2 linked regions of the Homo sapiens genome follow. The protein of the gene in region 2 interacts with the protein of the main gene of each other region in a pairwise test. Each region holds a gene or a part of one and is shown on either strand. Other genes may lie near its edges.

What was found. The genes of interacting proteins can lie anywhere in the genome.
Region 1: the proteins of KRTAP4-5 (region 2) and ZNF835 interact in binary tests that used the Homo sapiens proteins (3 or more experiments, as listed by UniProt).

Annotation. Positions count from the first base shown.
Region 1 is NC_000019.10:56,661,735-56,668,765, reverse strand, and holds the end of ZNF835 (zinc finger protein 835), read left to right. Parts: intron 1-3,520; 5' UTR 3,521-3,567; coding exon 3,568-5,181; 3' UTR 5,182-6,786; downstream 6,787-7,031. UniProt on the Homo sapiens protein: May be involved in transcriptional regulation.
Region 2 is NC_000017.11:41,148,424-41,154,573, forward strand, and holds KRTAP4-5 (keratin-associated protein 4-5), read right to left. Parts: upstream 1,403-6,150; 5' UTR 1,345-1,402; coding exon 799-1,344; 3' UTR 501-798; downstream 1-500. UniProt on the Homo sapiens protein: In the hair cortex, hair keratin intermediate filaments are embedded in an interfilamentous matrix, consisting of hair keratin-associated proteins (KRTAP), which are essential for the formation of a rigid and resistant hair shaft through their extensive disulfide bond cross-linking with abundant cysteine residues of hair keratins.

The DNA.
Region 1 (7,031 bases), on a different chromosome or scaffold from region 2:
CGCATCTCCCCTGCCTTGCACCTCAGTTGCTCTGTCCAGCCCCACCCCCTTTACCTTTCCTCTGCCACCCTTGTCACCATCCTGCCCTGGGACCTTTGCACTTGCTGTGTTCTCCACCCTGAACACAAACATCATCACTCCCTCAGGGTCTCCTCTTGTCCTCTTGCTGAGGCACACGCTGCGGGAAGAGCATGTCAGGCAGAAAGAATAGCCCACACAAAAGCCCTGTCTTGACCAGGTGTGGTTGGTGGTGCCTGCCTGTGATCCAAGCCCTTTGGGAGGCTGAGGTGAGAGGATCACTTGAGCCAGGATTCCCAGGCTGCAGCGAGCTATGATTGCAACACTGCACTCCAGCCTGAGCAACAGAGCAAGACCCTGTCTCAAAAAAAAAAAAAAAAAAAGCCCTATTTTAGGTCCTTTGGGGTGTGACGGAATGCCATACTCTGGTGGCTTAGAAACAGCATTTATTGGCCGGGCACAGTGGCACATGCCTGTAATCCCAGCACTTTGGGAGGCCAAGGTGGGTGGATCATCTGAGGACAGGAGTTTGAGACCAGCCTGACTAATATGGTGAAACCTCATCTCTACTAAATACAAAAAATTAGCTGAACATGGTAGCGCATGCCTGTAATCCCAGCTATGCAGGAGGCTGAGGCAGGAGAATCGCTTGAACCCGGAAGGTGAAGGTTGCAGTGAGCCAACATTGTGCCACTGCACTCCAGCCTGGGCACCAAGAGCGAAACTCTTATCTCAAAAACAAAACAAAACAAACAAACAAAAAAACAAAAAAAGAAAGAAAGAAAGAAACAGCATTTATTTCCACACAGTTCTAGGGGCTGGAAGTCCAAGGTCAAGGTGCCGGCAGGTTTGGTGTCTGGTGAGGGCTGCTTCCTAGTTCATAGACCGGGCCCTCTTGTTGTGTCTTCATTTGGAGGAAGGGGCAAGGGAGCCTTCTGGGTCCTCTTTTATAAGGGCAGGAATCCAACGCCTGAGGGCTCCAGCCTCATGTCATCATCACCTCCCAGAGGCCCCACCTCCTAGCACCACCACAAAGGGTTAGGATCTCACACAGGAAGTGGGGAGGACAAGCTTCAGACGTAGCCTGTCCAGCAGCAGCAGGAGTGTACCCGGAGGAGCCAAAGGCCGAGCACTCTCTGCTGTATGCACACAGCCTACTAGTTGGTTCAGGGAATGCCTGTGTGTGAGGGGCTGAGCCCACACATAACATGAGGCCAAGCTTGCTGAGAGACCTGCCATGTCCCTCGGGAGAAGGGGAGGCTGGAGCCCTGTTTAGAGAGAGAAAACCAGGCAGAGCCTCAGAGCAGGTAGCCACTTACCTGCAGCCACACAGCCTGGAAAGGACCTCCCAGCAGTGTGAGCCCCCTCCTCTGGGGCTAGCCCCAGCACAGTGGATCCACAGGCAGCTGCCTCCTTCCCTCTCTCAGCACCAGGAGGTCATTTGTCCATCTGTCTTCCCATTCTGTTAGAACTAAAGCATCAGAAGTCAGTGGTGAGTTTCTCGCCAGCGTGCAGGTCCAGTGTACACCAGGCAATTGGTATAAATCCTTCAGCATCACAGCCCCACTAGAAGTAACTATATGTATGGCTTCTGTTATGGCTTTCTAAAAAACAGTGACTTCCTGGGCTCATATAAAAACAGATCCCTGCTTTCCACTGAAAATGTGCAAAGCAGACAGGGTAACCTGCAATAGCTTGAGATCACCATCTCTAACGACCCTGGGCCCACGAGCCAGCATGAACCTCTGAGCCTGGGAGACCCTGGGCAGCTCCTTCACTGATGGAGCCCTGTAGAAGGGGAGCATAGTGAGTTGAATAGTGTCCCCATAATGTGAAATCTGGGATCACTGTTGGCTGATTCTGTCTGGTGAGGGCTCTCTTCCTGGTTTACAGATGGCCGCCTTCTCCCTGTGTCCTCACACGCAGAGAGGACAGAGAGAGCAGAGAGTAAGTGAGCCCCCTGGTGTCTCCTCTTATAAGGACGCTAATCCTATTAAGGAGGATGCCCTCATGACCTAATCATCCTCCAAAGGCCCCACATCAAACGCTGTCACACTGGGAATTAAAGTTTCAACTGATTTTTCCCCAGAAAAGAAAACTGTCTTTCCAGTTATCTTAGCTCCAGCTTACAAAAAAAATCACAGATTAGGTGGCTGAAGCAATAAACACTTATTTCTTCACAGTGCTAGAGGCTGGGAGTCTGAGATCAGAGTGCCAGCATGGTCAGACCACACTGAGGACTCACTTCCTGGCTTGCAGACGGCTGCCTTCTTGCCATGTGTTCACCTGACAGACAGCGAGCTCTGGTGTCGCTTCCTCTTCTTATCAAAACATTAGTCCCAGCCAAGCGCGGTGGCTCACGCCTGTAATCCCAGCACTTTGGGAGGCCAAGGTGGGTGGGTCACCTGAGGTCAGGAGTTTGAGACCAGCCTGGCCAATATGGTGAAACCCCCTCTCTACTAAAAATACAAAAATTAGCCGGGCATGGTGGCGTGCACCTGTAGTCCCAACTACTCAGGAGGCTGAGGCAGAAGAATTGCTTGAACCCGGGAGGCGGAGGTTGCAGTGAGCCAAGACTGTGCTCCAGCCTGGGCAACAGAGCAAGACTCCATGTCAAAAAAAAAATAAAACAGTCCCATTGTGGGGGCCCCACCCTCATGACCCCCTCTAAAGCTAATCACCTCCCAAAGGCTCCATCTCCACAAAGCATCACCTTGGGAGTTAGGGCTTCCATGTATAAATTTTGAGGGGGCACAATTCAGTTCACAGCACCAGATTACAGGGCCATATTTTAAGAGCTGACAGATTCATGCTTTTTTTTTCTTTTTCAGGGATCTTTTAAATTTGTTTTTAGTTCCATTAAGTCAGTGATTCCCAACTGGGGGCAATTTTGTCCCCAGGGGAGGGGACACCTGGCAGTGTCTGGAGACTTTTTAAAGAAAATTCAGACAGGGTCTCACACTGTCACCCAGGCTAGAGTGCAGTAGTGTGATCACTACTCACTGCAGCTTCAACCTTCTGAGCTCAGCTGATCCTCTTGCCTCAGCCTCCTGAGTAGCTGGGACCACGGGTGCACAACATCATGCCTGGCTAATTTTTTTTTTCATTTGTAGAAATGAGATCTTGCTGTGTTGCCCAGGCAGCAGACAGTTTGCTGGTCTCAAACTCCTGGGCTCAAGCAACCACCTGCCTTGGCCTCCCAAAGTGCTGGGATTGCAGGCATGAGCCACCACGTCCGGCCTGGAGACATTTTTCATTGTTACAACTCAGGGGTTGAGGGGTAGTGTCCCTGGCAGCCAGTGTGGAGAGACCAGGGACGCTGCTCAACATCTCACAACACACAGGATGGGTCCCACCACACCAAATTATTGGACCCAAAATGTCATTGGCACAGAGGTCCAGGGACCCCATGCTAAGTTCTTACCAGTTCAGCTGTTAGCCATTTTTCCAGCTCAGGACAAGTGGCAACATTTAATTTTTTTTTCTATCTTTTTCTTTTCAGACCCAGAGAAAAGATGTGAGATCAAGACAGCAGCCCAGGGATCGAGGATGGAGGGACTCTTGAGCGTCGCCCTCCAGGGCGCAGAGTTGGAAGGAAACTGGAAACACGAGGGCCAGGTTGAGGACCTGCAGGAAAACCAGGAAAGCTGTCCAGAGCCAGAGGCCGTGGCCTGCAAGGGAGACCCTGCTGGGGACAGCATGCAGGAACGCGATGAATTCAGCCGAATCCCAAGAACCATATCGAGCCCTGCTGCTACCCAAGCCAGTGTCCCCGACGACAGCAGTTCCCGGAGGTGCAGCGCGCCTGGGGAGAGCCCGAAGGAGAGGCATCCTGACAGCCGCCAGCGGGAGAGAGGTGGAGGCCCCAAGAAGCCGTGGAAATGCGGGGACTGCGGGAAGGCCTTCAGCTACTGTTCAGCGTTCATCTTACACCAGAGAATCCACACCGGGGAGAAGCCATTTGCGTGCCCCGAGTGCGGCAAGGCCTTCAGCCAGAGCGTGCACCTGACCCTGCACCAGCGCACGCACACGGGCGAGAAGCCCTACGCCTGCCACGAGTGCGGCAAGGCCTTCAGCCAGGGCTCGTACCTGGCGTCCCACTGGCGCACGCACACGGGCGAGAAGCCGCACCGCTGCGCCGACTGCGGCAAGGCCTTCACGCGCGTCACGCACCTGACCCAGCACCGGCGCGTGCACACGGGCGAGCGGCCCTACGCGTGCGCCCAGTGCGCCAAGGCGTTCCGCAACCGCTCGTCCCTGATAGAGCACCAGCGCATCCACACCGGTGAGAAGCCCTACGAGTGCTCCGCGTGCGCCAAGGCCTTCCGCTTCTCCTCAGCGCTCATCCGCCACCAGCGCATCCACACGGAGGAGAAGCCCTACCGCTGCGGCCAGTGCGCCAAGGCCTTCGCGCAGATCGCGCACCTGACCCAGCACCGGCGCGTGCACACGGGCGAGAAGCCCTACACGTGCCAGGACTGCGGCGCGCTCTTCAGCCAGAGCGCCTCTCTGGCCGAGCACCGGCGCATCCACACAGGCGAGAAGCCCTACGCGTGCGGCCAGTGCGCCAAGGCCTTCACCCAGGTGTCGCACCTGACGCAGCACCAGCGCACGCACACCGGAGAGCGGCCTTACCCCTGCCACGACTGCGGCAAGCGCTTCAGCAACCGCTCCCACCTCCTCCAGCACCGCCTCGTGCACACCGGTGAGCGGCCCTACAGGTGCCTGCAATGCGGGGCCGCCTTCAGCCACGTGTCCTCGCTTATAGAGCACCAGAAGATCCACACCGGAGAGCGGCCCTACAAGTGCGGCGAGTGCGGCAAAGCTTTCAGCCAGGGCTCCTCGCTCGCCCTGCACCAGCGCACGCACACGGGCGAGCGGCCCTACACCTGCCCCGAGTGCGGCAAGGCCTTCAGCAACCGCTCCTACCTGATCCAGCACCACATCGTGCACACCGGGGAGAAGCCCTACGAGTGCAGCGGCTGCGGGAAGGCCTTCAGCTTCTCCTCCGCGCTCATCCGACACCAGAGGACGCATGCAGACAGTTCGGGACGCCTTTGCCCAGCTCCCACGCCTGACTCAACACCTGGGCTCTCACAGGGAGGAGAAACCTGTCAACAGGGGTGCCCTGGCAGAAACCCGCGTGGACCAGCAGAAGATTAAGAGCTGAGGGCCTCCTTTCCAACCTCACAATGCTATGGGGGAGATACTGTGTTATCCCCGACGCTTCCTGTGAGGAAACCGAGGCTCAGAGAAGCTTGTTAACTTGCCTGAGGGCACACAGTGGGGAAGACACAGGGCTAAGACTGTACCTCACATCTGCCAGACTCCCCTGCGGTCTTCCTGGTGCAAAATTATAAATGGGGCACGGGCAAGTAGACCTGCAGAAACACCTATGGCTGGCCTTTAATTTCTTTCTTTTTTTCTTTGAGACAGTGTCTCTCTCTGTCACCCAGGCTAGAGTGCAGTGGAGCGATCTCGGCTCACTGAAACTTCTGCCTCCCGGGTACAAGTGATTCTCCTGCCTCAACCTCCCGAGTAGTTAAAATTACAGGAGTCTGGCTAATTTTTTTTTTTTTTTTTTTCTGAGACGGAGTCTTGCTCTGTCGCCCAGGCTGGAGTGCAGTGATGCAATCTCGGCTCACTGCAACCTCCGCCTCCCGGGTTCAAGTGATTCCCCTACCTCAGCCTCCCGAGTAGCTGGGACTACAGGCGCCCGGCCACCACACCCGGACTAGTTTTTTTGTATTTTAGTAGAGGCGGGGTTTCACCATGTTGGCTAGGATGGTCTCGATCTCCTGACTTCGTTATCCACCCGCCTCGGCCTCCCAAAGTGCTGGGATTACAGGCATGAGCCACCGCGCCCAGCCTAATTTTTGTATTTTTAGTAGAGGCAGGGTTTCACCATGTTGGCCAGGCTGTCTCGAACTCCTAACATCAGGCGATCTGCCTGCCTTGGCATCCCAAAGTGCTGGGACTACAGGCCTGAGCTACGGTGCCTGGCCAGCTGGCCTTTTCATTGTTGATTTTATTGAGTAAGCCCTTGCTCAGTAAATTTAATTGAATTAAAGTGAATAAAAGGTTTGGTTTCTTTGGCCAAGTTGGCATATTTACTAAAGGAGCAGAGTCTGAAGAAGAAATCTGGATTCACTAAGATAGAAATAGTGCTTAGAGAAAATGAGCAGGAGAAATCTAGAGCTGAAAGTTATTCTAGAAGAAGGGAGTGCTTCTCCTCTACAAAAGATTTTTAGAGTGGGCCTAGTCTTTTTTTCAGTATGAGGAAACACCTACCCATCTCCACCATTTTTCCCCCTAACTCAAAGACCTGACTTTAATGCTTGTATCAGTCAGCTCTTGCTGTGTAACAAACCATCCAGCCCTCATTTATCCATTTACTATTTCTCATGCATCTGGAGGTCAGCTGCTGGTTCTGTTGGTCTGGACCAGGCTTGGTCTGGACCTGGACCAGGAGGGCTCAGCTGGGCCAATTTGATCTTCTTCTCCTGACTCACATCTCACCTGGGTGTGTTCTCAGGGAGGTGGCAGGAGTCTGAGAGGGAGTGGACACACAGGCATGCTTTCAAGTCTCTGATATTGTCACATTTGCATCTAGTCCCACAGGCCAAAGCAAGCCTCCTAGCCAAGCCTAGGATCAGCACAGGAAGAGCCTTCCTAAGCATGTGGTCCCAGGGAAGGGTGAAAAGTAGGAGTTATGAACGTAATCCACCTACTACAATGTTGAATTAAAGTTATAATCTCATAACTTCACATGACTATAATCATTGGAAAATTATTTTATGGGGGAATACACTCATGTAGTCCACAATTTATAAAGTTAAAAAAAAAAACTGTTCTTACTCCTGTGTCTCCCAGCTACCAAGTCCCCCTCACTAGAAGCAAATGCTTACTATATGTAAGCATATATATGAATATTTATATGCATAGAATATTCTGGAAAGATATATAGTACACCTTTCTTCACAAATGGTAGCATATGATATGCAGAATTTTCT
Region 2 (6,150 bases):
CAACACGCCCAACTAATTTTTGTACTTTCAGTAGAGAAGGGATTTCACTATGTTGCCCACACTGGTCTCGAATTCCTGGCCTCAAGTGTTCCACCCACTCAGCCTCCCAAAGTGCTGGGATTGCAAATGTGAGCCACCACGCTCGGCCAGAAACTGTATCCATTAAGAGCCTATACTGCATTATGTACCAGGCCCTGTGGTGAGTATATTACATGGGTTATGTCTCTTAACATTTAAAGAATGTAATGCATTATCTCTATTCACAGAGAAAGAAAACTGAGGCCTGAGGAGGTTAAAAAACTTGCCCCATGCCACGCAACAAATACCTAGGGGAGTCGTGATTCCAATGCAGGGAACATGAATCAAGAGCCCAGGCTCTTAAACATGCTCTCCTGCATTTGAAGAGAGATGGCCCTTGATGTGAACTGACAGGTAAAGACACACACACACACACACACACACGCACAATGAGATCACTAACAAATCAGAAGATTTCAATATTAGGGAAGTGGCTGTTTATTAATACATGAAAACAATATTATATGAGATCATCACAGTTAGTGTCCCCTTCGAATGAAGACACTGCTCATCTAAAAATAACTGCATTGGGGCCTGGCATAACATATTTTAATGAATGTGATTGTCTGTCATTTCCTAGAAGAGCTGAATGTCCACTCTGAATGCCACATGAGACAAACTGGCAGGGAAGTGTTCATTTTTCCAGTGACTGGCTGGCTACAGTGCATTTTAAATGACTAATGAAGACATTCATAGTATGACAAATATCACAAGGAGACATTAGCAGCAAGAGGAGGCACAGCACAAGGGGCGGGGGCAGGTGGAGATGACACAGGTTGGGCGATAGCAAGTGGTGTGGCAGGAGACTCGGCCACAGACTGGACGCACGCAGCAGCAGGGGCGGCAGCAGCTGGATTCACAGCAAGAGGGGTGGCAGCAGCTGGAGATGCAGCAGCTGGGACGGCAGCAAGTGGGCTGGCAGCACACAGACTGGCAGCACTGGGGTCTGCAGCAGCTGGACACACAGCAGCTGGGGCAGCAGCAGGTGGTCCTGCAGCAGGTGGTCCTGCAGCAGGTGGTCTGGCAGCAGCAGGGGCGGCAGCAGCTGGATTCACAGCAATAGGGGCGGCAGCAGCTGGAGATGCAGCAGCTAGGGTGGCAGCAGGTGGGCTGGTAGCACACAGACTGGCAGCACTGGGGCTTGCAGCAGCTGGGGCGGCAGCAGGTGGTCCTGCAGCAGGTGGTCTGGCAGCAGCTGGGGCGGCAGCAGTTCTCCAGGCCACAGCTCTGCTCAGAGCTGACAGAGCCACAACAGGAGCTGACCATGGTGTCAGAGGGTGGAGGTTCTGGGTGGATTTCTAGAAGAATGAGGTTCTCAAGTTTGGAAGTGTCCTTGGGCCACAGCCTCTTATATACTGCCCAGCTGTCTTGTTGGTACTACATTTTCCTTGTTTTTGTTTACTTAATAACTAAGTGATTATCAGATTACACAATAATGTTTGCCCATTTAATGGTTTAAACTTGTTGAAAACAAAATTTTCTTGTCCGGATGTAATAAGATCTATCATGTCTGCCTTCTCTCATGATTCACACCTCGGTAGCATCTTCTAGACCACGTTCTCTTCCTCTTCCTCCACAGAGGGCTGTTCATGTGATTCCCTGCATTTGGAATTGCATTTCTTACTCTCGCTTCAGGTACCCTCTACCAAAATGGGATTTGGTCAGTCACACTTCCAGTTATGCATTCCCTCTAGTGACCAATAGCGAGGAAAACCCATCTGCTCAGTGTGGCATTCCTAGTCTGTGGGTCATTATTAAGCAATAAGCAAAGGGATAGCAATACCTGCATGTGGCCTTGGTGACCTCTACACTATTGAAATGGGTTTCCCTGAATGTTTCAAATTTTGGGTCATATTCCATATCCTTAAATTTTTATACTTGGTGTTACTAATGGGTCAGTTTCTTAAATTGATACTTTGCTCTCCTATATTTTGTGTCATGTCTCTCCAGTTAATCTATTAGATTCCGGAAGACATAGTCCCATTTTTATTCCATAACTCATTGTTTTTTTTAAATGCCTCTAACTGTCTGTTAACATAATGCAGGTGTGTGTTTTCACTTTTTAAAAAAGAAATTTGAGATAATTGTAGATTTACATACAGCTGTAACAAACAGTCCCAGGAGAGGCTGTCTGTACTTCACCCAGGCTCCCTAACACTGTGTAACACCTGTATAATACTTTTAAGAATCTATCTACCCCCACTACTGTGTCTTGCATGATGTGCTTAATATAGAAAGAACTCAAGCTCAGTGAAATTAAAAACAATTAGTTATTTTTCAGATTGACGTATAATATTGTATTTACCACATACAACATAATATTTTGAAGTATATATACATTGTGGAAGGATTAAATCTAGCTAATAAATGCATTACCTCTCATACCTATCATTTTTTTGTGGTGAGAACGCTTAATATCCATTCTTAGAATTTTTCAAGAATACAGTATGTACAATATATCATCATTAACTATAGTCACTATGCTATACAGTAGACCTCTTGAACTGATTCTTCCTGTCTAGCTACAATTATATGTCTTTTGACCAGTATCTCCTCAAGCCCCTGACTCCCTAGCCACCCCTAGCCTCTGATTATCTTCATTCTCTGCTCTACTTCTATGATATCAACTTTTTTGAGTGCGATCATGTGAGTGAGATCATGTGCTATCTGTCTTTCTATGACTGATTTACTTCACTTAGCATAATTTCCTTGAGATGTATCCATGTTGTCACAAATGACAGAACTTCCGTCTTTTTACGGCCAAATAGTATTGCACTGAGTATATACTGCATTTTCTTTATCCCCTTACTCATTGGTGGACACTTGCACTGTGTGCATATCTTGGCAATTGTGAATAGTGCTGCAATAAATCTGGACATGCAGTTATTTCTTCAACATACTAAGTTCATTTCCTGTAGATATATAAGGTACCCAGAAGTGGATTGCTGGATAATACGGTAATTCCAGTTTTAATTTTTTGAGGAACCCTTATATTGTTTTCCATAATGGCTGAACTAATTTATATTCCCACCAACAGTGTACGAGGGAGTTTTTTTCACATCCTTGCCAATACTTGTCATCTTTTGTCTTTTTGATGATAACCATTCTAACAGGAATAAGGTGATATCTCAATGTGGTTTCGATTTGTATTTCCCTAATGATTAGTAATGTTGAGTACTTTTTCACAAACCTGTTAGCCATTTGTATGTCTTCTTTTGAGAAATGTCTAGTCAGGTCTTTTGCCCATTTTTAATCAGGTTTTTGTTTTCTTGCTTGTGAGCTGTTTGAGCTCCTTTTGTATTTTGGATGTTAACCCCTTATGAGATATATACTTTATAAATATTTTCTCCCATTCTGTAGGTTATCTCTTGACTCTTTTTGTGGTTTCCTTTGCTGTGTGGAAGCTTTTTAGTTTGATGTAATCTCAGTCATCCAATTTTTCTTTCGTCGCCTGTGCTTTTGAGGTCATATTCAAAAAGTCATTGCCGAGACCAATGTCATGAATCTTTCCCCCATGCTTTCTTCCAAAAATTTCATAGCCTCTGATCTTACATTCAAGCCATTAACCCATTTGAACTGATTTTTGCATACTGTAAGAAATAAGGGACTAATTTCATTCTTCTGCATGTGGATACCCAGTTTTCCTAACATAATTTATTGAAGAAACTGTCCTTCCCCCATTCTTGGCATCTTTGTTGAAAATCAATTGGTTATAAATGAGTGACTTTATTTCTGGTCTCTCTATTCCATTCCATTGGTCTGTGTGTCTGTTTTTATGTCAGAATGATGGTATTTTGGTTACTGCAGTGTTGTGGTTTATTTTGAAGTCAGGGAGTGTGGTGCTTCTAGCTATATTCTTAGTGTCCAAGATCACTTTGGTTTTTTGTGGTTCTATACAAATTTTAGAACTTTTTAAAAATATTTCTGTGAAGAATGTCATTGGTATATTTATAGGGATTGTGTGAGATCTGTAGATTGCTTTAATAATATTTGGACAATATTGGAATAAACACAGGATATCATTCCATTTATTTGTGTTTTCATCAATTTCTTTCATCTGTGTTTTACAGTTTTCAGTGTAGATATCCTCACTTCCTTGGTTAAACTTGTTCCTAAGTATTTTATTTTATTGTAACTATTGTAAATGAAATAGTTTTCTTGATTTCTTTTTCAGATGGTTTGCTATTAGTGTATAGAAAACCTACTGGGTTTTGCATGTTGATTTTATACTCTGCAACCTTACTGAATTTGTTTATTAGTTCTCACAGTTTCTCAGTGAAGTCTTTAGGGTTTTCTACATATAAGATCATGTCATCTGCAAATAGAAACAATGTAACTTCTTCCTTTCCAATTCAGATATTTTTAAAATATTTTATTCGTGTAAATGTATAATTTTGTTACATGGATATATTGCATAATGGTCGAGTCAGGACATTTAGAGTATCCATCACTGAAATAACGTGCATTCTACCCATCAAGTAATTTCTCATCATCCTTCCCCCTCCTACACCCCTGCCCTTCAGACTCTCCATTGTCTGTCATTCCACACTCTACCTCCATGTGTACGCATCATTTGGCCCCACTGTAACTGAGAACATGCAGTATTTGTCTTTCTATGTCTGAGTTGTTTCACTTAAGATAATGGCCTCCGGTTCCATCCATGTTTCTGCAAAAGACATGGTTTCATTATGTTTTATGGCTGAAGAGTATTCCATTGTTTATATATAGCACATTTTCTTTATCCAGTCATCCACTGATGGACATTTAGGTTGATTCCATATGTTTGCTACTATAAATAGTGGTGCAATAAACATATGTGTGCAGGTATATTTTTGGTATAATGATTTCTTTTCCTTCAGGTAGACACTCAGTCATGGGATTGCTGGATCAAATGGTAGTTCTAGTTTTAGTTCTTTGAGAAATCTCCATACTGTTTTCCATAGCGGTTGTACTAATTTACATTCTCAACAACTGTTTATGTGTTCCCTTTCAGCTCCATCTTCATCAACATTTGTTATTTCTGTCTTTTTGATAGCAGCCATTCTTACTGGTATAAGATGATCTCTCATGGTGGTTTTAATTTGCATTTGTTTAATGATTAGTGATGATAAGCATTATTTCAAATGCTTATTGGCCATTTGTATGTCATCTTTTGAAAAATGTCTGTTCATGTCCTTTTCCCCTTTTTAATGGAATTATTTGCAATGTTTTTGTTGGTAGAGTTCCTCTTAAATTCTGGATATTAATCCCCTGTTGGATGGATAGTTTGCAGATATTTTCTCCCATTCTGCAGGTTGCCTGTTCACTCCATTGATTATGTCTTTTGCTGTGCATGACAGACCAGGAGCACCATCATCTTGGACAAACACTGCCACTTGAAGTTGCAGCTCCCTTTCTAGCCTCATGCATTTCAAGGAAATCACTTCTCTTCTAACTACAAGCAGCCAGAAACAGCAGACAGTAAAACACAGATAAGATAGCTCTGGCACAGAGGGAAGCAGGGGGAAAGTCTCTTGGGTAACTGCCAAACTTCACCCTCGTACAATGGGCCCCAGTAAAAGAGTGGGCCTTAATAAGCACTTTCCTTTCCCTTCATGTGCACTAAGATAGGGAAGTTAAAAGCAGACTCGGGCTATGCCTGCAAGGGAATAGACACACAACTCTCCCTCCCAGATAAGCACAACAAAGAGACACAGAAGCAGTCCAAGCCTCTAAAAAACTCTCCCACCCTGAATCCTTAAAAACTCTTAGTCTGTAAAAAGTGTGCCTCCAACCTAACTCAGCCAAATGCCACTCTTAGGTTTGTTTTCTCTAAAATAAACCTGTCTTAACTGGCAAGCCATCTTTCATGTTTCTTTCCTTTTTGTTTAATTCTTACAGTGCAGAAACTTTTTAGTTTAGATAAATCTTATTTGCCTATTTTCTGTTTTGTTGCCTGTGCTTTAGAGGGCATAGTCATGAGTTTTTGGCTAGACCAATGTCCAGAAGAGTTTTCCCTAGGCTTTCTTCTGGTTTCTTTCTTTCTTTCGTTCGTTCGTTCTTTCTTTTTTTTAGACGGAGTCTCGCTCTGTC